Homo sapiens: one gene and its partners. The protein of the gene in region 2 purifies or fractionates together with the protein of the main gene of each other region. This does not show direct contact. Each region holds a gene or a part of one and is shown on either strand. Other genes may lie near its edges.

Region 1 (6,650 bases), on a different chromosome or scaffold from region 2:
ATTGCAGCAGTGTGTACAGTAAGCATAGATGTCTTATTACCTGTTTTCAGAGATAAGGTCTTGCTATACGTTGCCCAGGCTGGACTTGAACTCGTGGGCTCAAGCAATCTTCCTGCCCCTCAGCTTCCAAGTAAACTAGCACTATAGGACTATGTAATCATCACACCTGGCCCAAATAGTCTTGATTCCTTCCCTAAGTATATACTTACCATCACTTGTTGGACTACTGACACACTTGACTTTTATCCTGCTCATTCTTCCACTGTTCAACCATCCTTCATAATAGATACTTCAAAGAACAAAGAGACTCCCACCCATGTCAAATTGTTCAAAGTATAAGCCAATTTCTAATACATGCTGTATTATCAGTAAGGGCCTTTTAGATTTCCGTCTATTACAAAAATCCTGTTTCACTGTATTTCAAACTAATACTATCTTCATCTTTCATTGCAAATACTTATGGTATGAGTCATTCTGTATCCAAGAGGCATCTCAAAAAATAGCACTGGATGACAAGCAAAAAATAACATTTTACAATTTTTCAGGCAAGAGCACTTTATTTACACCTCTGAAAATAAACCACAATTGACAACAACAAAGGAGACTGTGCAGTTCAACTTTTTATTTTAATAAAATCAGAATATGCACAGCACATGCAGTGCTAGCATCTAAACTAATACAATAAGCAATTACTAAAGCTACAGTGACTTGAGGTTCAATCTTTACATTCAGCAAGTTTAAATCCTTACATGATTTTTGAAACCTTATTAACTGAAAATATTGCTTGCTGATAAAACTTGCTCAAATGCTATTGCTGAATGTACAAGTCACTGATTATGCCAATACAACAAAGATAACCACATGTTTGAGGATTGCAATGTGCCAGACATTCACTGAAAAAAAAAAAAAAACACACAACTAAACAAAATCCACACAACAAACATCTGAGAATCTGGACACTTCACATCAGTGTTTTGAAGTGTTTCATTAATATCTTAAGACAAGTGTATCAAAACCTTGGCATGATTTAATTTCAAGTCGCCAATTTTGTTTTTACTAACATCAGAAAGTTATGGCTACACTGCCAACGCCGGGTCTGCTTAATTTGACTTAAGAGTTTAATATGACTTAAACATTAAAAGCTCACACTACCCCGAAATATATAATTTCACGCATACGGTGACATTCAACATTCAAGTGCCAGTGTTTTTGTACTGTCTTTTGGTCAAGTTTCTTTAAACTTTCAAAGAATCACTTTTAGGCTTACAAAAATAAATATTTGTCAAAATGTTCAATAAATATTACATAAAACTAGCAGCAAAAAGTATCTAGAAATCTGTCGTGTGCAAATAGTTTTCTTCCCAACTATCATTCCCATGGTCCCAAATAAATTTTAGAATCTAGTCCCATCCCCTTCCTAGACAAGCTGCGTTCAACAATCTCCAAGAGACAAAGTAAGATTGGAAGTTTAAGGACACGCACACAAGACATATATATAAAATTCTCTGAATGTGCAATAAAAGAAGTACTTTGTAAAAAGTTATGGGCAAAATGTACAAGGGCCTAAACCTAGACTAATTGAAATAGCACCATAACAAATGACCTCAATACTGTCAAGTGCACCTACTTAATAAAAGTTTTAGAACAAGGCACAATACACTTGAAAATCTATTGCACTTTAGGAAATTTTTGCCGTCTTCCTATGCCACTGTAAAAAGATGGAGCGTTTTGATCACCGCATTCTGGCCACAAAATTAGCACAGAATTCAAAGTGGCAGAGGCATTTTAGTGGTGGACAATGCTCATCTTTGGCCAGATTTAGCATAAACAGACTATAAATACAATGGAAACCTATGCAACTAAAACTGACTAAAACTGCACTGTAGAGCAGAATTGACACCTTGTGCAGTTATGTACATATTTCCAACCTGTGTGATCTCAAAGATTTCAGTTTGTTACTCTTCTGGAGCCATTTTTACGAAGTCTATAGTAAGCCAGTTTAACATCTCAACGCAGCTTGAACAGAGTAATGTGAATCGGCATTTAAAATAAAGCCTGCTGCATTTAATTCTTCCTGTTCATACCCTCTTGACCAAAAAACATCAACACTAGCATGCGTTATTAGACCAAAAATCATCCAGGGCCCTAATGAGGGCTGGTCATTGCTGTGGTCAGCCATTCTACCATTTCAATTTCATTTATGGCAGGCATTTAAAAAGTCTAAGTAGATGAATTCTCCTAAAAACCTATTTCAAGTTATCAGACCTTTAAACTTTCCCTGTAATAGTATGCCCACATTTGGCTAGCTCATAATTAATGATCTGCCTAAACGTTGAAAGAGGAATTGCTGTATTTACTTGCATTAACTTTGAAAACAGTGCTTTGAATGTATGCATGTATTCATACATCACCTCATCATGACTGGAATGGCTTAAAGACTATCAGGTTCTAAATACCTATCCAGGATAGAGTGAGCAAATCAGAACTTTAACTTAATACAGTTTGCCACATTAGAAACTAATTCCATTAATATGCTTCAAGACATTTGTTGTTTTCCCCCAATCTGCAAGTATCAAAAAGCCCTAATGCAGGCTACCGCATAAGTTTTTCCTTATATTATTTATGGATGAATCGATGATTCCTGTTAAGTTGTATCACACCTGTGTGCCAAGGTTTGATTTTAGCCCAAGTTCAGTAAATTTATTTTGTCAAAACAATTGATATCTTGAGCATTACTGAGCCAACAGGACATCAAAATAAAAAGTTGTCTAAAGTTAAAGGCACAGTACATTAACAAACAAATGATCCTCAGTCACAAAATTATAAATGCAGTTTGGGATGGGGGTAGGCGGGAGGGGAGTTAATCCAAACTACAGCAATGAAGTCTTCAAACCACCTTCTGAACAGGGCTGCTGATTGTTCCTTTCATTTCTTCTTGTGACCTTGAGCTCCCTTAAAAAAAAAATTTCAGTGGAGAATCACAGCTGGTAATGTACTGCGAGTTCTTGAAGCTACACAAGGTATAGTCTGGCTAAGTTACATGTGGTTTCCATATTAGCTTGTTTGGCAGGGTGACCTACTGCAAAGCAGGCTCAGTTACCCCACCAGTCAACCCCCTGGGAGTTATAATTTCCTCCATATCCATCACTGTTGTAAAAGCCTCCATAGCCACCTAATGAGAGATTTAAAAAGAGAGAGAAATTAATGAAGTTATCCATCATTAAATACAATCCTTCCCTTACGTAATTTGCCATCAAGTTTCTATAGTGCTGAACTTAAATTGTTTAATTAGGCTTTGAAAAAGATGACTAAAAGGAAAAAAACCCTTCCCAAAGCTATGAAGTTACAGATTAACACTACCTCCACCAAATCCTCTGCTGCTACCGTGGCCACCTCCGCCACTGCGGCTGCTGCTTGCGCGGCTGCTGCTGAAGCTGGAACTGCTGGCACCGCTACTTTGTCGGTAGTCTCTGGCACCAAACCCTCCACTAAATCTGCTACTATAAGAAAAAAATTATGTTGGTTCACATGAAGATGAAATTCCACTAAAGTAACCTAACTCTTTCCTAATGACCAATTTCTAATTTTTCCATTCAAACAATTCCCCATCCAGCCATATTTTCCCCAACAGAGTGTCACCCATTCTAATACAACCCCTTACCAAAGAATCTAGGAAGCCTAAGATGATTAAGCTTTTTAAATACTGTACAGTTAACCTTGGACGTTATGCATGCAGAGGAAACACTATGAACTGTAAGTGAACACCCATTCCCCTCATTATATACTATTTATACCTCACCTCTTAGAACGTCCACGACTGCTACCCTTGTAGTGGTGTTCATAAGCCATGTTTTCTAACCAAGACGGCACTTCTTGTTTAGCTTCAACAAGAAGATCCAACAAATCCTTAGTAATATTTATGTTCCTCTCGTTAAAGAATGAGGTTGCCAGGCCTAAAAGAGTTCCCAAAAAAGTATATAAACAAAGGTCTTCCATAAAGTAACTTGCTACTATTCTTACTTTCCTACGTAGAAATATTTAAAATATTACCACGTAATATTTAAACAAGTGCTTTGAGCAAAATCTTTGTCACTTTCATTGTTAAAAATGTATTTTAGATCCTAGCAAGTTCTTTCCTGCACACATCACAGCAAAAAACAATGAAACCATCAAGTAATCAAATACTTACCAAGGTTTCCTACACGTCCCGTACGACCAATACGATGTACATATTCTTCAATATCACTTGGCAAGTCAAAATTGATAACATGTTTCACATTTGAAATGTCCAGTCCTCTTGCTGCTACCTGGAAAATAACTTTTATGAGATATGGCCCACTTAAAAGAAAACAAATACTTGAACATGCTCAATTTGAATAAAAGAAAGATGTTTATACATACTGCTGTAGCCACTAAAATTGGGCTTTTTCCTGAGCGGAACTGGTGAAGGGCCTCTTCTCTATCCCTCTGAGAACGGTCTCCATGGATGCTGGTACATGCGTATCCTTCATGGTATAAGAAATCCTCCAGAGAATCTGCACCCTTTTTGGTCTCCACAAACACTAAGGTCAGTGAATCCTTGCCTGTCGTTGAAAAATTATAGGTTTTTGTCACTAACATGGCTTAGTTCTCTTTGCACTTATGTATGCACAATTTTAATGTGTCAATTAAAATACATATATATCTTCTTAAAAACGGGCTTTCAACACAGCATGTTTTGAATTGAGGAGGAAAAGTAATAAAGGTAATCCAAATACATTTAAGAGATGGGGGTCTCACTAAATTGCCCAGGCTGAGAGTGCACTGGCCATTCGCAGGTGCAATCATGGCATACTACAGCCTCAGCCTGCCAAGTAGCTGGGACTACATGCACTGTACCACTGCACCCAGCCCAAATGGGTTATTACCAGAGCAATTAAATTATTCATAATTTTAGCTGGGTGCAGTGGTGAGTGCCTGTAGTCCCAGCTACTCTGGAGACTGAGGCAGGAGGATTGTCTAAGTCTAGGAGTTCTGGGCTGTAGTGTACTATGCCTATCAGGTGTCCACACTAAGTTTGGCATCAACATGGTAACCTCCCGGAAGCAAGGGAGCACCAGGTTGCCTAAGGAGGGGTGAACAGGCCCAGGTCAGAAACAGAGCAGGTCAAATACTCCCATGCTGATCAGTAATGAGATCACACCTGTGAATAACCCCTGCACTCCAGCCTGGGCAACAAAGAGAAACCCCCATGTCTAATAAAATAAAAAATTCATAATGTTACCTGTTGCATTTAGGAGGTCAAGCAGAAATGACCGTTTGTCTGATTCTTCCACCCAAACTACTTTCTGTGTGATGTTTTCAGAGGTAGAGCCAACTCTTCCTACAGCCAAGAAGATATATTCATCTAAGAAATCACGAGCCAGCATCTGAAAGAAAAAAAATTTTTATTATTACCTGAGATAAACAAATTTCTAAATAAATAAAATTTGCAACATCAAACAGTACCTGTATTTCCTTAGGAAAAGTAGCACTAAACATCATAGTGTGGCGGACACCCTTTGGAGGCATAGTATCTTGTTCGACTATTCTACGAATCTGAGGCTCAAACCCCATATCCAACATCCGATCAGCTTCATCTAACACCAAGTATCTGTCATGTCATGAAAAAAAACAAGCCTGAGTTTAGAATTTGAGGAGAAATCAACATGGTTTTAGTATGGCTGTTAGTATAATTACAAATACAATTGTATAGGTTATTACAATTATATATTCATTAAGATGGTGCCTCACACTGCATAATTTTACAGACACAGCACAGGATTCTTGCCACTACATAAGTCATTCAAGATTACACAGTCAAATTAGCCCATCCTAGTTGACTGTCCCACGAGCTGATCATTGTTGTAAGTCTCAACCAAGATGTTACTGATTTTTCAACATTAAAATTACCATGAACAAGCTTTTTGTGAAAGTTAGATGTCTGAAATACATCACTTCTCAGCCTTAACATTTAGACAATGTTAACATCACCACAAAACTAATGGGCAGTAACTTTAATACTGCATCCCATACATTTAAAAATTAACATACTTGGCCGGGTGCGATGGCTCACACCTGTAATCCCAGCACTTTGGGAGGCCAAGGCAGGCGGATCACCTGAGGTCAGGAGTTCGAGACCAGCCTGACCAACATGGAGAAACCCCGCCTCTACTAAAAATACAAAAATTAGCCCAGCGTGGTGGCACATGCCTGTAATCCCAGCTACCTGGGAGGCTGAGGCAGGAGAATCGCTTGAACCCGGGAGGCAGAGGTTGTGGTGAGCCGAGATCGCGCCATGGCACTCCAGCCTGGGCAACAAGAGCGCAACTCTGCCAAAAACAAAAGAACAAAACAAAACAAAACAAAAAAACAAAAACAAAATAAAACATACTTGCAAAAGTCTAATCCAATCTTTCCTCTTTCCATCATATCCACTAGACGTCCTGGAGTGGCTACTAACAAATGGCATCCACGTTCCAAGTCTCGAATCTGCTGACCAATATCGGCACCACCATAAACCACGCAAGGACGAACTCTAGATCGGTATGAAAACTATAAGCAAAAAAAATGTTATGAACTTCAAGGTCAAAATTTTTACATGTTCATAAAACATTTAATTAGAATCAATG
Region 2 (7,037 bases):
ACCCTACATATGTGGGTTTTAAACATGGAACAAAAACCAAGATATGTTATATAAATTTTAATGAAAATTATACGTAGTAAACACACATGCTTTAAATGCACATATACTATTTGCCAATAATCACTGAATTATTATTATGAGCATACATTAGCTCTTTTCAAAGTAGTACTTTTTTCCAAACAGCACTTTCAAAGTAGGAAATAATACATTCTCATTTGTGAATGAATAAAAAATGCTACATGCCAAAGGAGAGTGCTCTAGTGGTTATATACTTCACTGCTAAGAAAAAGCAATTTTACAGAAATAAAAAACATATGAAAAAGGCCAGGCGCAGTGGCTCATGCCTGTAATGATAGCACTTTGGGAGGCTGAGGTGGACGGATCACTTGAGACCAAAAGTTAAAAGACCAGCCTGGCCAACGTGGCAAAACCTGGTCTCTACTAAAAATATAAAAATTACCCAAGCATGGTGGCATGCGCCTGTATTCCCAGCTACTCGGGAGGCTGAGACATAACAATCTCCTGAACCCGGGAGGCGGAGGTTGCAGTGAGCCTAGATCATGCCACTGTACTATATATAGCCTGGACAACAGAGTGAGACTCTATCTCTAAATAAATAAATAAATAAATAGCTGTGAAAAAACCCAAAAAAACAAGACGTTGCGCACCAATTGAGCCGTTCAAAATTATAAAAGTGTTCACGAAAACAATACAAGGAAAACAGGATCTACAAACTGAAGTATTTCTAAAGCTACAAATAAAATAACTTCTGGTTTTACTCATCTTAATACTGTAAAATAAGTAGGCAAAGAGCAAAACTTACCCTATATGTGTAACAGCTTCTCTGTTTTCACATTCAGTAGTCCATATTGCTATCTTATCACCTTTAGCTCTAACATTAACAACAGCGCCACATACATCATCACTGTAGTCATCAAAAGATTCTCCAATAAGGCACAGAAGCTTAAAAAAAAATCCCAAATTACATTTAATAGATTATAAACAAGCTCATTACACTGCAAATGTCTCTTCTGTATTTGCATAGAAACTAAAGGCAGTTTTTAAATCAAGAGTTAATTTTTTAAATGTGTAAATTTTATTTGCATATATTGATCTGTCCTGACTTTTAAATACTCATTCATTTATTTACTATCAAATCAGCCTTTTTCAGCAAATTTGGCAGTTAATGTCATGGCAGACATAAAAGCTGATTTTATTAATATTCATTTGCTCTGCTGCTGCTTATATTTATGAGCAAACAAATATTAATAGAATAATAAAAATAGCTATTCATGGTTAATCTCCTCTTGTTCTTATTTTTTATGAATATTTGTTAATGGTCTGGTTTTTTGTTGTTGTTGTTGTTTGAGACAGGGTCTTGCTCTGTCACCCTGGCTGGAGTGCAGTGGGATCATCACAGCTCACTGCAGCCTCAACCTCCTGGGCTCAAATGATCCTTCCACCTCAGCCTCCTGAGTAGGTGGGCATACATACAGGGACATGTCACCATACCCAGTTAATTTTTGTATTTTTTGTAGAGACAGGGTTTTGCCATGTTGCCCAAACTGGTCTTGAACTCCTGAGTTTAAGTGAAATGCCTGCCTCAGCCTCCTGAAGTGTTGAGATCACAGGTGTGAGCCCAGCCCTAACAGATTTCTTAATTGTGGTAAAATACAAATAACATAAAATTTACCATTTTAACCACCTTTAAGTGTACAGTTCAGTGGTGTTAAGTACATTCAACATTGTTGTACAACCATCCCTACTACCATCCATCTCCAGAAGATTTTTTTTAACTGCAAAATGGAAATGTCCTGACTTTTTAATGTGGAATTCAAAAATGGTATTTGCTCATGATCTTCCCCCTCAAAAACAGAATTTTCTTCTTAAAAAGTCATTCATTCATTAGCTGGCTGTGCTGGCATGCACCTGTAGTCCCAGCTACTTGAGAGGCTAAGGCAGGATGATTGCTTGAACCCAGGAGGCTACAGTGAGCTATGATGGCCCCACTGCACTCTAGCCTGGGCGACAGAACAAGACCCTGTCTCTAAAAAAAAGCAAAATAGTCACTTATTCAAACATTTAAAGTGATTAACTTAACAAGTGCTAACTATAAACCAGGCACGGTTTCAAGTGCTAGGGATACAAAAGAGACTACAAACCCCGCTCCTATAAGCTTGGGGTTTGGAACCTCTGTCTACAGAAAATGCTTATTATCTCATATTTAATTTGTCTTGTAAAGCCAGAAGTTCCAGTTAATATCACAACATGTAGGTCAAATGGTAGTACACAACAATTTTATTATTTGCTTCACTAATCTAAAAAGTTTAGTGGGACAGGCACAGTGACTCACACCTGTAATTCCAGCACTTTGGGAGGCTGAAGTGGGAGGATCACTTGAGGCCAGAAGTTTGAGACCAACCTGGGCAACATAGCAAGATCCCATCTCTGGAAAAAAATTAGAAAATTAGCTGGGCATGGTGGCATGCACCTGTAGTCCCAGCTACTTAAGAGGCTGAAGTGGGAGGATCACTTGAACCCAGAGGGTGAGGCTGAAATGAGCCATATAAATAAATATCCGCACTCCAGCCTGGGCAACAGAGCAAGACCCTCGCTCTAAAAATATAAGTATTTAAAAGTTTAGTATACATATAGCAATGCTGTAAGAGGGTTGCAAAAACTTCAATCATACAAAATGTAAGGTTCTATAATTTTGAGGTTAATGAAATGACCACAGTGAGCTTACTGTGGTGAGAGTCAACTGCCAATCACTTAAAATATCTGACTTATAATGTGGTAGGATGTTTCACTGTACTATAAACAGGAGTCATATGACAGAACAAAAATAATTACTGACCCTGATTTTCTAGTGTTGGGCATCCTTCTCTTAAATTAAGTAACAAATGTAAAACATAACATATCTTAAGTATCAGTATTCCAAAACTACCTCTAAAACTGCTTTATACTTTTAAAACCTTACTGTCTCTAGCCAAAAGCGATCGAGGTCACTTCGTCTCTGCTGTTTGTTCAATGTAATTAGCCATCGTCCTCCCCGTTTGTTTTTCTCATCTTCCCACATAGGCTCAATACCATCCTACAGGGTTAGAAGACAACAGTATTACACAACATTGTTACCTTGACTTTGAGAGATAATCATTAGAAACAGTTAAGCAACAACACTGTCAACTTCTTACTTTATTGCCCATAAAACTGCCATTGATGTAGTTTTTAAACAGCACATAAGACTTAAAGCCAGAGGCATGACATTGCAGAATTAGAGTCCTGGCTTTGTCACTTATTAGCTATCAAATCTTGGGTTTCACTTAATTTGAAGGTTCTTAAACTTTCTGAGAAGCAAACATATTTTAGAAGCTCTGTACATTTCTACAGCTAGAAAATACATGCAAAAACTATGCAATTTCAGTTAATGAATGTCCCGTCCCTCTACCAACTGACAAAGCCCAATAATAAGTATTCCAAGGACCCATGCTCCTAAGGTTAAGAATGCTTGATAAACTCAGTCTGCTCAAATATATAAAGGAAGGAGTAGACTGGATAATCAAAGCTCTCATCAAAATCAATCTCAGTATGTGCCCACAGAGTAACTCTCTCTCAATTTTTATAAACAAATAGAATAAGATATATTGATACTAAAGCATACTACAGCCAATTAAATTATCAGCCTATTCATCACACTATCAAATATTCCTAAGTTTATGGTAAGATTTCTTAATGAATACCAAATGGCCCAGTCCTATAATAAATATATAAAATCACCAATTAAGCATACCTTAAAAAGTGAGTAGTCACAGCCAGGCATTAAATTACTAGACAACTGGATATGGTTGTACAGACTAGGTAAAAGAAAATAACAATTAAAAACACAGAATATGTAATATAGAGTTTAGGTGCTTACATATATATACATTTAGAACATATGATGAAAATAAACAGATAAAAGTTCATGTTTACTTGTTTCTAAGGAGTCAATTTCTAAAATGGACAAAACAGATCTTAAAAGCAGTTAAATAATCAACTTCAGATGACAGGTATAATTTTCAAAAAAACTTCTAGTGACTGCTCTGACAAAAATATATTTTATGTTAGTTAACTCAGTGCATACATATGTATATATATAAGAAACTGAGAAGAGAGGTATAAGGTGGCTTTAAGTAGATGAAATAATTTCTGAAGTTAATACACAGTTTTTTTCACAAACATAAAAAAACAAAAACAAAAACAAAAACAAAAACCAGAAACGATGAACTTCCTGACCATCAGGATTGCATGACTGAAACAGTCATTATCCTTGAAGGTATCCAAGAGTAGAATAGATCAACGGTTCCCAAACACCACAAACTGTCACTGGTTAGTCAACATAATAATCATTTTAAAACTGATTTTAGAAAAATAAATAAATAAATATAGTTACAAGCCCTACATCTTGGGATTATAATCACCTAAATATAAGATGGAACCCTGCAGTCTGTATTTCTAAACTATTTCCCAAGTATCAAAATAACAGAATAACATTTGCGATGACTTAGTTGCTTGCCTGAAGGTAGGAGGCTTAGATCATTTGATCTCCTGTAGTCTTTTACAGCAAAATTGATTTAAAAATTGGCAACTCTTAAGAATCTTTTGCTTGTCTCCAATATTAGATGGCAGAAATAATGATCTTAGCTGTGTCTACAGACCATGGATGATTCTACTATCCTTAGTCTGGTTCTCCTGGTGCTATGTTAACCCCATCTAGGAATATTTCAGGTAAAGATTTAAGGGCCGGGTGCAGTGGCTCACGCCTGTAATCCCAGCACTTTGGGAGGCCGAGGCAGGTGGATCATGAGGTCAGGAGTTCGAGACCAGCCTGACCAACATGATGAAACCCTGTCTCTACTAAAAATACAAAAATTAGCCGGGCGTGGTGGCATGCGCCTGTAATCCCAGCTACTAGGGAGGCTGAGGCAGGAAAATCGCTTGAACCCAGGAGGCGGAGGTTGCAGTGAGCCGAGATCACCCCATTGCACTTCAGCCTGGTGACAGAGCTAGACTCCATCTCAAAAAAAAAAAAAAGATTTAAGAAAGAAGTTGGCATCTTTAAATCAAATTCCATAGTATAACACACAAATATAGTTTAGGTGAGACAACCTAAGACCACATAAGGTTTGCTGAGTCACTACCTAATGGTAACTCCCAACTACATCATCAATGACAGCCTCCACTAGGCAACAAAAAAAGACGGGATACTAAGTGACTATAAAATTAGCGCTACTAATGTCATAAAATGAATGGATATTGTGGGAATGACCTTCAATAAAATACTTTTTCCCTTTTGCTGCCTCCTTTCTCTTCTGTGGTGCTCAAAGGTCTCTCAAGTAAGTCCATCATGAGAATTTATAATGGCACATCTAAACAGAATCCTAAGACTATGCAGTCTGGATAAATACAAAAGGACTCAATGGTTATCTGCAATAAATTTGCTAGAAAAAAACAGAAATTAGGAAGTGGCCCACACATTTATAGAAAACTGAAAAATCCTTCATATCTCTAAGTTATGGTATAAAAACCTACTATGTAATGACATTGACTACATGTAACTGAAGCATGGAGAACTGTTCTAATTAGAAGGTAGAATTATGTAAACTGGTAAAAGCCAAACAAACTAGATAAATGCAAATCTGATTGGGGAAGGTGGCTCAAGGCTTCCTTTTTCTCTGTAGGAGAATGAAAAGCTTTTTTTTGGGGGGTGCAGAAGACTGGAGTTATTTAAGAGTCCTGAATAAACAAAACTAGAGAAGAAAAACTACTTGATGTTTTGATGATGGGCAAAGAATAATAATCCTAGTTTAACTAGAAAACTAGACCTATAAATTATTAGGCCTTAAATGTAGTTATTATTAAGTGTCAATGCTTTTAATAAAAAATAAATACTCTCAAAGTTTACTCTCAAATGAATGTTCTCAAATACTCTCAAAGTTTATGGTTTTAATCGTATGCTTTGCTTTTTTCAGCAACACAAATGAATACAAAATATCTATTAGAAGCCAAGCACTGGAAATATACAGAAAAATATTGTTTCTGCTGTTGAAGATGTACATACATATGTATAAATTTTATACCACAATCTATTTCTTTGTATGAGCAGAATATCTTGAGGGGGTTACATTAAAACATAAGAGTAGCATCACTAATTCAGCATGTATATGATCCTAAAAAAAGATGTACAAGTTAGAATATTTAGATAACTGCTAGGTAATTTAAAGTGCTTATTAAAGAGTTTTGCCTTTCATGGTCTCAAATAGTACCTCCCTAGTCATTCTCCAAGTAAATTAGACACACTGGATTAACTTTGTTTTTAAGAGAATCAATTATCAAAACTTCTTGAAATAGACTTTACAATTTTTATTTATTTTATAGAGAAACAGGGACTCATGTTGACCAGGTTGGTCTTGAACTCCTGGCTGCAAGTGATCTTCCTGCCTCAGCATCCCAAAGTATTAGTATTACAGGCATGAGTCACTGAGCCCAGCCTTAAATTTTGTTTTAAGGTCATGCAAAAGTTGATGATCCCAATTCTTAACTTTCTGCTATACAGAAACAAAATTTCAAAAATATTTCAACTATTCTTCTTGAGGTTGATCAAAGTATAATGAAATGAATAAAGTATCATGATAGATACTGGCATTGCCTTGACAAACCGTGAATTCTGAACACTTCAGCCTTTGATATCTTAAAATCTCTGGTACAGGAAATTCCAGATATTGCACTGAAAACAGTTTGCAGAAATGAGGACCCAACAACGCACTGCAATACCCAGTTATGAGGCAAATGTATCTTGGCAACCAGGAGTGGAACAAGTTCCAACTAGCTGTCAAAAGTTCTAAGGGCAATAATGGATTCTTGAGCTAAGGATATCTCAGGACAAGAAACAATAATTGGGGCTGGGGGATGACAAGATTGAAGCTCTGTAAAACTAATAAAGCATAATCACCAATTCAAACTTTTGTGAGGAGATAAAAAAATAGATGAACATTCAT
Region 3 (3,719 bases), on a different chromosome or scaffold from region 2:
CGTAGCTTGGGTCCTATGGCAGGAGTGCAATAGGACATGGATATGCATCACCTGTTCTATAAAACTGGTTGCTGGCTGGGTGTGGTGGCTCAACTCGTATAATCCCAACACTTTGGGAGGCCAAGGCAGGCAGATCTCTTGAGATCAGGAGTTGGAGACCAGCCTGGCCAACATAGTGAAACCCCGCTTCTACTAAAAATACAAAAATTAGCCAGGCATGGTGGCGTGTGCCTTTTATCCCAGCTACTCGGGAAGCTCAGGCAGGAGAATTTAACCCAGGAGGTGGAGGTTGCAGTGAGCTGAGATTGTGCCATTGCACTCCAGCCTGGGCAACGAGCAAAGCTCTGTCTCAAAAAAAGAAAAAAAAAATGGTTGCTGCGTGATGAGGCAGTTGGTCAAATTAGTTTTCAGAAGGTTAAGGGTTCTAAATATCTAGAGTAAAGAAACTGAATTAATTATCTGAGCGGCCTCATTGTGAATCACTGTACACTCAGGAACCAGACTGAGTTGAAATCCTGTCTTTGCCACCTATTGACAGCACGATCTTAAGTGGATTTTAGCCTCTGCCTGTTTCTCAGCTGAATGTGAGTTTAATAATAGTGCATGCCCCAAAGTTGTTGGTTAGGAATCAATACATGAAAAACATTTAAGAATGGTGCCGGGCACAGTGGTAACTGACATATGAGCACCTGCCTCTCTCTGCTCAGATACAGAAGGTGGTCATGGCACTAGGAGACTACATGGGCGCCTCCTGTCACGCCTGTATCGGGGGCACCAACGTGCGTGCTGAGGTGCAGAAACTGCAGATGGAAGCTCCCCACATCATCGTGGGTACCCCTGGCCGTGTGTTTGATATGCTTAACCGGAGATACCTGTGTGAGTAATTCGGTTCTCCAATCCCCTGGGTCACTTTGCTCTTGTGCACGCTTTCCAGTCTTTCAGCGTAAGCCAGAGTCATTCCCAAGGATGCTGGTTTCTCTCTGGGGGAAGAGCTGCTCTGTGATGGAGCCCATGCGTGTCATCTGAGCCTCTGGCTTCCCTGCCAGTGCAGCCCTGGCAGTGTCCTACTTCCCAGGGCTGTTGTCTGCCTGGCGGGAAGGTCCTGGGCAAAGGATCAGTCTTTGTACTCTGAGAGCAGACTACTTGGCTCCTCTCTGTTTTTTATCAGCGAAGTTGGATATATCTCTCCCACATTTCCCTAATCATATGCTATATATTGGCTTTTTTTTTCTTCTCTAGCCCCCAAATACATCAAGATGTTTGTACTGGATGAAGCTGACGAAATGTTAAGCCGTGGATTCAAGGACCAGATCTATGACATATTCCAAAAGCTCAACAGCAACACCCAGGTGAGGGCAGTCTTGCTTGAATAGCTAATGATTCTTGAAAAATAGTAAGTGCCAGGGGAACCATATACTGGATTCTTGAGCCTTTTTATGCATCTGCTTCAGTTTTAGGTGTGGCTAGGGAAGGGAGCAGGCCTCAGGAAGGAACCAGCACTCTAAGACTGGCCTTTTTTTCCACTAGGTAGTTTTGCTGTCAGCCACAATGCCTTCTGATGTGCTTGAGGTGACCAAGAAGTTCATGAGGGACCCCATTCGGATTCTTGTCAAGAAGGAAGAGTTGACCCTGGAGGGTATCCGCCAGTTCTACATCAACGTGGAACGAGAGGTGGGGCCCAGTGCAGGAGGCGGGCCTGGTAGTGAGTTGTTGGGTATAGCCCCTGACTGATTTTTGTCCCCCAACCTCCAGGAGTGGAAGCTGGACACACTATGTGACTTGTATGAAACCCTGACCATCACCCAGGCAGTCATCTTCATCAACACCCGGAGGAAGGTGGACTGGCTCACCGAGAAGATGCATGCTCGAGATTTCACTGTATCCGCCATGGTGTGTTTGCCCGCTGCCAGCCTGTTGTGGGTCTGCCCGTCAGAAGTGTCCTACTTGAAGCCAGGGTTCCTGGAACCCAGGTGCCTACCTGGTCTGCTGCATATTTGTTTTCTCTTCCAGCATGGAGATATGGACCAAAAGGAACGAGACGTGATTATGAGGGAGTTTCGTTCTGGCTCTAGCAGAGTTTTGATTACCACTGACCTGCTGGTGAGTAGAGGGAACTGATAGCAAAGGCAGAAGGGAGGATCCAAGGTGATTCCCTCTCCAAGGGGACATCAGTGCCTCTCAGGAAAGTAGCAGCTTGGAATAGAATCTGGCATGCCTAAGGCCTTTGGGGAACTGGGATGCTTATTTCCTCTGCCTTCCTTGGCTGCCCACATGGATGCCTAAGTGTCTTCCCTCCGGGATAGAGTGTCCTCCGTGCACATGCTGAAGAGTTGTCTTTCTTGACGTAGGCCAGAGGCATTGATGTGCAGCAGGTTTCTTTAGTCATCAACTATGACCTTCCCACCAACAGGGAAAACTATATCCACAGGTAAGCGTAGATCTGGAACACTCCCCTACCCCTTCACACCTGGCCCTCCCTGGGCTTAAAGCTCCTGATATTCCTCATCCCCTTCCTTGTTTTCCAGAATCGGTCGAGGTGGACGGTTTGGCCGTAAAGGTGTGGCTATTAACATGGTGACAGAAGAAGACAAGAGGACTCTTCGAGACATTGAGACCTTCTACAACACCTCCATTGAGGAAATGCCCCTCAATGTTGCTGACCTCATCTGAGGGGCTGTCCTGCCACCCAGCCCCAGCCAGGGCTCAATCTCTGGGGGCTGAGGAGCAGCAGGAGGGGGGAGGGAAGGGAGCCAAGGGATGGACATCTTGTCATTTTTTTTCTTTGAATAAATGTCACTTTTTGAGGCAAAAGAAGGAACCGTGAACATTTTAGACACCCTTTTCTTTGGGGTAGGCTCTTGCCCCAGGCGCCGGCTCTTCTCCCAAAAAAAAAAAAAAAACACTAATCCATTTCCCTAACCTAGTAACCTCCAGATCCCAGAGGCTCTCCTCACCTCAGCTGAGCTCCTTTGAAAGTGATTCAAGGGACTATGTCACTCAGCCTCATTTGCTGGACCAAATCTGGAGGGAGAACCCCTAAAACCCCTAAGTGAGGTTGCCCAGGGGGTTGTCCCCAGGTGGGGGGAAGCAGGGGAGAGAAAATGGTAGCCATTTTTACATTGTTTTGTATAGTATTTATTGATTCAGGAAACAAACACAAAATTCTGAATAAAATGACTTGGAAACTGCCTGTTTGGGCTTCTCATTTCTTACCTCCCCTTCCCTCTCCCACCTGCTACTGGGTGCATCTCTGCTCCCCCCTTCCCCAGCAGATGGTTACCTTTGGGCTGTTGCTTTCTTGTCACCATCTGAGTTCTCAGACGCTGGAAAGCCATGTTCTCGGCTCTGTGAATGACAATGCTGACTGGAGTGCTGCCCCTCTGTAAAGGGCTGGGTGTGGATGGTCACAAGCCCCTCACATGCCTCAGCCAAGAGGAAGTAGTACAGGGGTCAGCCCAGAGGTCCAGGGGAAAGGAGTGGAAACCGATTTCCCCACCAAGGGAGGGGCCTGTACCTCAGCTGTTCCCATAGCTACTTGCCACAACTGCCAAGCAAGTTTCGCTGAGTTTGACACATGGATCCCTGTGGATCAACTGCCCTAGGACTCCGTTTGCACCCATGTGACACTGTTGACTTTGCCCTGATGAAGCAGGGCCAACAGTCCCCTAACTTAATTACAAAAACTAATGACTAAGAGAGAGGTGGCTAGAGCTGAGGCC
Region 4 (7,037 bases), on a different chromosome or scaffold from region 2:
CAGCTGTTCTTTCATGCACTGAATATTTATCAGATCCCTGCCATATAAATTAGTCAACACTTGTAAAGAACAGTGCCTGGCACATAGTGAATACTTTGCCCTGATGATGATGATGATGTTCAGGCATTAAGGTAGGCAGGCTCAGTGATGGTACAATGATGAGCAAGGTGGATATGGGTCTTGCTTTTATTGGGCTTATGTTTTAGCTGGGAGAATAGTGTGGGTTGGATGACAGTCTTATAACCTGGTATTTTGGCTTTCCTCCTAGATGCTTTCTTCACATGTCGAAAAAATGTCCTTCTGGCGAACAGCTCATCCCCCCAGGTAGAGGGCGACTTTGCCATGGCCCCTCGGGGCCCTGAGCAGGAGGAATGTGAGGGCCTGCTGCAGCAGTGGCGAGAAGAAGGGTTGAGCCAGGTGCTCTCAACTGCAAGTGAGGGGCCCCTTATAGATAAAGGACTAGCCCAGAGCAGCCTGGCACTTCTGATGGATAATCCTGGAGAAGAGAATGCTGCTTCAGAGGACAGGTGGTCCAGCAGGCAGCTGAGTGACCTTCGGGCTGCAGAGAACCTGGATGAGCCTTTCCCTGAGATGCTAGGAGAGGAGCCACTGCTGGAGGTGGAGGGGGTGGAGGGCTCCATGTGGGCAGCTATCCCCATGCAGTCGGAGCCCCAGTATGCAGACTGTGCTGCCCTCCCAGTGGGTGCCCTGGCCACAGAGCAGTGGGAAGAGGACCCAGCGGTGTTGGCCTGGAGCATAGCACCTGAGCCTGTGCCCCAGGAAGAGGCTTCCATCTGGCCCTTTGAGGGCCTGGGGCAGTTGCAGCCTCCCGCAGTGGAAATACCATATCATGGTGAGTCTGACAACTGGTTGAGTGAGCCAAGGGAACAGGGTGTCTCAGGTGTGGGCAGAGCCATTGCTAAAGAGAAGATTCTATGGTAGGGAGCTCTGCCACTGCATTCTATTTTTCTAAGAATCTTGGCATGTCAGATCTAGAGGGTCCTTACAGATCATCTCATCCAGCCCCATGGTTTTAAAGGTGAAATAATCAGAGTGCAGAGAGGTAGTAGAACATGACTAAAGTCATAAAGCCAGGTAGGGGAAGAACTGAAAGCATACTCTAGTTCTGATTCTCCACAATGTCATTTCTCTGGTGGTAACCCTAGGGCTTTCTGGAGGTAGGGATAGAGAGGTCTCAGGGCCTCTAGTCTCTGTCTCAGTCACAATTACCTCAGTTTTATTTGTGTTGTATATTGAGAGTCCGTTAAAATTTGAAGAATGGCGTCAATAGATTTGAAATCCACTATGCTGCCACATGCCATAGGGGAGATGGGGACACACCATAGTTTCTAGTCCCACAGACTCTTCCAGGTTTAGGGGTCAGAAAACACCCAGGGCTGCAATTACTCTAAAAATGTCTTTAACCTCAGGTGACTGTTAAGCACACTCATCTGAGTGATTCTCCGGAGATTCATGGATTTATCAAAAATGAGAGTGTGTCAGCTTCCATATATGGAGCATCTATTAGATGCTAGGTGCTGGGGATGTAGTGGTGAGCAGGCCAAGATTGTCTCTGGCCTTGTGGAGCTAACCATGTCATCTGAAGAATGTCCATAGAAATCAATTCCCCACAGAGAGGGATGGGTGACAGGGAAGATGGAAAAAGGAACTTCAGGCATAATATTACTGAGTCAGGAGTGGAGATGGCAGCACCTCTGCATTACTCATACTTGCCATTGAGTGCTTCTCCCAATCCTTTGCAGAAATTTTGTGGCGAGAATGGGAGGATTTCTCCACCCAGCCAGATGCTCAGGGCCTGAAGGCAGGAGATGGCCCTCAGTTCCAGTTCACTCTGATGTCTTATAACATCCTGGCTCAGGACCTGATGCAGCAGAGCTCAGAGCTCTATCTACATTGCCATCCAGACATCCTCAATTGGAACTATCGCTTCGTGAACCTCATGCAGGAATTCCAGCACTGGGACCCTGATGTGAGTGAAGAGGGGGAATTGCCATCTTGCATTGTTGCTGGACCTGGGCTGTTGCCCAGTGCTCTTAGAAGATGAGTTCAACCCATAGTTGTTCAAATGATTGGAGTCCTATCTAGGGCTGGAGCTTGCCTGCCTGGTGTCAGTGAGTTGTTGGCAGATGCTGAGAAGAATCTCCCTAGATGTGCACTTCCCAGCACCTTTATGCAGGAAGGGAGGCTTGAGGGATTCAAGGAGCAGGAAAATCCAGTGCACATCTCTAATCTCTTCAGCTTAAGTCTGGGCCTGTTCTTGCTGTTGGTGACTCTGGGAAGTTTCAGTGTGACCCAGCAGCTTCCCACCTGGCCTCAGGACCTGCTCCTAGAGGGTGGGGGTCACATTCCAGCACTCTGGAGTGATTGGGTTTCTTGTCAATTTCCCAGATCCTGTGTCTCCAGGAAGTCCAGGAAGATCATTACTGGGAGCAGCTGGAACCCTCTCTGCGAATGATGGGTAATGCAGCTCCCTGGGATGCTTGCCAGCTTTTCTTTCCACAGACTTGTCTACTCTCTCCTGAAGACCCCATCCTTTCCTTTTGTCTTAGTAAACCCTCAGTTTCACCTGTGAGCTAGCTCCTTCCATGTGTGCCTGAGAAAGTAGAATTCTGCAGTTTTATAGCAATTCTGACATACATTGCTATTTGATCCTTGAAGTAACCAATGTGGTGAGACTGTTATTCCCATTTTACAGATGAGGAAACTGAAGTTCTGAAAACTCATGTGACTTCCTCAGAATCACAAAGCTACAAAGCTAGTAGATGTGGAGCTAGGAATCCAGCTTGTCTGACTCTAGATTCTGTGCTCTTTTCTATCATGTTACATTGCTTCATACCCTTCCCTCCTTGCCCTTCCAGCCCCTCAGTCAGCTGGTTACGATGTAAGGGGGAACCTGCTGAACCAAGGAAGTGGCAAAGGCTCCTTTACTGAGTAGCAGGAACAATGCCTCAGGGGCATACACTGGGACTGCTGGTGCTGGTTGGAAGGGATTCAGGCTTTAAGGACTCTGACCCATCTCTTTGGTGGGATTTTCCTTGCAGGCTTTACCTGTTTCTACAAGAGGAGGACTGGGTGTAAAACCGATGGCTGTGCTGTCTGCTACAAGCCTACCAGATTCCGCCTGCTCTGTGCTAGCCCTGTGGAGTACTTCCGGCCTGGCTTGGAGCTACTTAATCGGGATAATGTGGGCTTAGTGTTGCTACTGCAACCACTCGTCCCAGAAGGCCTGGGACAAGTCTCGGTGGCCCCGCTGTGTGTGGCAAATACCCATATCCTTTACAACCCACGCCGGGGCGATGTCAAGCTGGCCCAGATGGCCATTCTCCTGGCGGAAGTGGACAAGGTGGCCAGACTGTCAGATGGCAGCCACTGCCCCATCATCTTGTGCGGGGACCTAAATTCTGTCCCTGATTCACCTCTCTACAACTTCATCAGGGATGGAGAGCTCCAGTACCATGGGATGCCAGCCTGGAAGGTGAAATGGGAGAGGCCACGGTGTGGGTGGGAACATGGTCTAAGAGAGATTCAGGCGTTAGCATCAGTGCTTCTTCTGTGGCAGGGACCTCAGTACACCTGCTCTGGCCTGCTCCTCCTTTTTCTTGTTATGTTGAATAGCTTGTACCCAAGCCTGGAAGTTAAGAATTCTTGAGTACTTCGGCATATTGGAATTTTTTTCAGTTTTTATCATTAATATTTTTAATTCACAAGTAATACGTAAGTACATACTTGAAGGAACTTAAACATTATACAGTAAGACACAGGCCTGTTTTATTACCCACATTCCCTATTCTATTCTCTTAGAGTAACATAATGACCGTTCTAAGTTTGGTGGTAGTCTTTTAGCTTGTTTTCTTTGCATTTACAGTGATATCTATGTTCCTATGATATTGTAATCAGTGTTTACATTTGTTAAGCACTTAAGTGTGTGCCATGTGCTATTTTAAGCACTTTATACTCATTAACTAATTAGTTTTCACAGTTTCCATCATGGCTTCCATTTTATAAATGAGGAAACTAAAGCTCAGAAAAGTGAAGTAATTTGCCCTAGGTTATGCGGGTAGTTAGTGGTGGAGCCAGGATTTGTAACCAGGTGGTCTGGCTGCAGAGCTCTTACCCTCAAATACTGTGCTGTCATTGCTTATAACAGCCAATATGTAATCTACCATGTGTGTTTTATAAACATGATACACTACTGTATGTTTCATTTGTAGCTTGTTTTTTTTCACTCAGCAATTTGCATATGGATCTCATTCCTTCTAACTGTTGAGTGTTGATGACAAACACCTCGTAGTTTTATCAGCTTGTGCTGATTTCTTTATGTCACTTAATCTCCTTGTTCCTCTATTTTGCCCCTACTGTTTCAATTTATTGACTAACTTTTGGCAAGGCACAATGGTGGAAGGACACAAAACGATTGTATTACTGTTGCGCACATGGGATTTTATGTAAATGAGCCAGATGTGTGCAGAGAAAGGCATGATCTTGCCCTAAAGGAGCTGTAATCAAGGAACTCAGGGAACGAGGAAAAGAATTTACTGACTGCCTGCCACATGACAGGCACTGTTAGGCATAGTGAATGAGAGCACTTGCTTTGAAGCCAGACAGTCCTGAGTTCAGATCCGTGCTCTGCCACCTTGAGCAAATTACTTAACTTTTTTGAACCCCATTTGCCTCATCTATACGATGGGGGATATAATGGGACCTGCCTCAGAGGTGTTTTTTTGGGTGGATTAAATAAAATAATGCGTGTAAAGTGTTTTCCAGTATCTGGCTCAAAGTCAGTAACCGGTAGTGATTATTAAGATTCTTAATTGTACATGGTATTATTATCCCATTTTATTTATTTATTTATTTATTTATTTATTTATTTATTTATTTTTTGAGACAGAGTCTCGCTCTGTTGCCCAGGCTGGAGTGCAATGGCACGATCTCGGCTCACTGCAACCTCTGCCTCCTGGGTTCATGTGATTCTCCTGCCTCAGCCTCCCAAGTAGCTGGGATTACAGGTGTGTGCCACCATGCTCGGCTGATTTTTGTATGTTTAGTAGAGACGGGGTTTCGCCATGTTGGCCAGGCTGGTCTCGAACTCCTGAACTCAGGTGATCCACCTACCTCAGCCTCCCAAAGTGCTAGGATTACAGGCGTGAGCCACTGCGCCTGGCCTATCCCATTTTATAGTAGGAGATATTGAACCCAAGAGAGTTAACTAACTTGCCAAAAGTCACACAGCTATTAAGTGGCCATTGAATTGCAGATCTGTTTTACTTCTGATGACATATTGAAAATTTATGCCCTTACAGGGCAAGGGGATTCTGTCTATTGCTGCTCTATCCCCAGCACCTAGCTAGTGTCTTTTGGCTTTCAAATATTTGTTGTTGTTAAATGGCATAAAGGGACTTTTGCTACACACGTTGGAGATGTGCAGATGACTGATGTTGCCGAATGTTTCCCCTACTACGTTTTGTCCGTTCCCAGGCTGCTCATTGGCTTTGACCGAGGATGGTGACGTAGATACGGTAAAGTGCTTTGGTGCTTTCCCATTTGGTTTGACCCTGTGGTTACCCAGTAATAGGTTCAGGATATTAGACCTTGATCCAGAAGATCCAAAGATGAGGATAAACCTTTAACCATTGCAACTTAAAGCCCCTGAGAGTTGATATTCCCTGTGGAGGAGAATTGTATTGATTTTTCAGAGGTAAAATTTAGGGAACCACATGTTCATACTATTCGATTCCCCTTGATTCAGTCTCTTACCCCTCCTCCTGTTTCATGGACATTTCAGTGTTGCCAGTGAAAAAGTAATGGTTTTAATTTGGTCCTTATTTTTAACCTGCCCCTGAGACTTATATGCTTGTTTATACCATGTACGTAGTGTGTGATTGTATGTGTTTGTATTTGTCCACATGTCCCAAAACATGGGCTGTTACTTCCTTTTTCTATCTTGGTTTCCTTATTCCCACCCTTCTTTTTCCACCCAGGTATCTGGACAGGAAGACTTCTCCCATCAGCTTTACCAGAGGAAGCTGCAGGCCCCACTGTGGCCCAGCTCCCTGGGCATCACTGATTGCTGTCAGTATGTCACCTCCTGTCACCCCAAGAGATCAGGTGAGCACATGTCACATTCTTGGTTGGCTGTGTCTTCATGCCCATTTTGGGAGAAAGCTGGTGTCTCAACGACAAGAAAAAGTGTAATCCCTCATTTCTCTTAGCAGATTCCTCTGTTTTCTCACTATCCTCCCAATGGCTGTCCAATGAAATGGACAACTTTAAATCATAGCCTTTGGAAAATCTCCTTGTCTTCTGAATGCTTCCTCTGTGTACCTATGCTGGAAGTTGCTTGGTACTAAGGAGGTCTCAGCATGTGGCTTCATCGTCTTTCTTTCACTATATGTCTTTTCCTGGTTTACAGAGAGACGCAAGTATGGCCGAGACTTCCTGCTACGTTTCCGCTTCTGCAGCATCGCTTGTCAGCGACCAGTAGGACTGGTCCTTATGGAAGGAGTGACAGATACTAAGCCAGGTAATGGGAACTAATCCCAGTTTCTTGGTCTTCTTTCTTCCTCATTCCTGATATTGGTCAGTTATGTGGTTTCCTGCTCTTTTCTAAGTATAATTCTTAGAGATTAGCTTCTGGTAATACGTATATTTAGAAGGAAGGTTAGTTGAGTTCAGTGGCCATTGCATGGATGTGCAGTGTGATAAGAGTGCCGGACCAGGAATCAAGACACCTGGGTTGTAACTAGCTTTGAGAGCTTGGGTAAGCCATTTAACCTTTTTAAGCTTAAGTTGCTAATGACTAGCATGTGTACAGCATATATAGGGGAGAAGTTACACATGATGGGGCTTTGAAAATCATAAGGTGACAGTGGTTCTGATTTTAATAAAAGTTGTTCCTACTGAGAAATTTCAGATTGAATATAGCAGAGTATACTTGACATTCTCCCCTTCTTGTCTCTGAAACCACTTCAAAGCAACAAGGAGAATGGAAAAAAGAAATGTAAACTCCATTGTAGACA

What was found.
Region 1: the proteins of EIF4E (region 2) and DDX3X purify together in Homo sapiens (co-immunoprecipitation; 3 studies listed by BioGRID and IntAct, with this or other methods). This does not show direct contact.
Region 3: the proteins of EIF4E (region 2) and EIF4A1 purify together in Homo sapiens (affinity purification with mass spectrometry; 9 studies listed by BioGRID and IntAct, with this or other methods). This does not show direct contact.
Region 4: the proteins of EIF4E (region 2) and ANGEL1 purify together in Homo sapiens (affinity purification with mass spectrometry; 5 studies listed by BioGRID and IntAct, with this or other methods). This does not show direct contact.

What each region holds. Positions count from the first base shown.
Region 1 is NC_000023.11:41,344,162-41,350,811, reverse strand, and holds the end of DDX3X (ATP-dependent RNA helicase DDX3X), read right to left. Parts: intron 6,574-6,650; coding exon 6,413-6,573; intron 5,633-6,412; coding exon 5,488-5,632; intron 5,409-5,487; coding exon 5,264-5,408; intron 4,584-5,263; coding exon 4,402-4,583; intron 4,308-4,401; coding exon 4,190-4,307; intron 3,954-4,189; coding exon 3,800-3,953; intron 3,501-3,799; coding exon 3,361-3,500; intron 3,173-3,360; coding exon 3,093-3,172; 3' UTR 538-3,092; downstream 1-537. UniProt on the Homo sapiens protein: Multifunctional ATP-dependent RNA helicase. The ATPase activity can be stimulated by various ribo-and deoxynucleic acids indicative for a relaxed substrate specificity.
Region 2 is NC_000004.12:98,884,099-98,891,135, forward strand, and holds part of EIF4E (eukaryotic translation initiation factor 4E), read right to left. Parts: intron 3,855-7,037; coding exon 3,791-3,854; intron 3,095-3,790; coding exon 2,981-3,094; intron 2,449-2,980; coding exon of another isoform or gene 2,356-2,448; intron 964-2,355; coding exon 824-963; intron 1-823. UniProt on the Homo sapiens protein: Acts in the cytoplasm to initiate and regulate protein synthesis and is required in the nucleus for export of a subset of mRNAs from the nucleus to the cytoplasm which promotes processes such as RNA capping, processing and splicing.
Region 3 is NC_000017.11:7,575,817-7,579,535, forward strand, and holds the end of EIF4A1 (eukaryotic initiation factor 4A-I), read left to right. Parts: intron 1-707; coding exon 708-876; intron 877-994; exon of another isoform or gene 995-1,142; intron 1,143-1,239; coding exon 1,240-1,349; intron 1,350-1,527; coding exon 1,528-1,671; intron 1,672-1,752; coding exon 1,753-1,890; intron 1,891-2,010; coding exon 2,011-2,100; intron 2,101-2,138; exon of another isoform or gene 2,139-2,275; intron 2,276-2,348; coding exon 2,349-2,428; intron 2,429-2,525; coding exon 2,526-2,670; 3' UTR 2,671-3,190; downstream 3,191-3,719. UniProt on the Homo sapiens protein: ATP-dependent RNA helicase which is a subunit of the eIF4F complex involved in cap recognition and is required for mRNA binding to ribosome.
Region 4 is NC_000014.9:76,802,875-76,809,911, reverse strand, and holds part of ANGEL1 (protein angel homolog 1), read left to right. Parts: intron 1-268; coding exon 269-853; intron 854-1,763; coding exon 1,764-1,990; intron 1,991-2,409; coding exon 2,410-2,479; intron 2,480-3,062; coding exon 3,063-3,496; intron 3,497-4,909; coding exon of another isoform or gene 4,910-5,027; intron 5,028-5,496; coding exon of another isoform or gene 5,497-5,537; intron 5,538-5,999; coding exon 6,000-6,126; intron 6,127-6,430; coding exon 6,431-6,541; intron 6,542-7,037.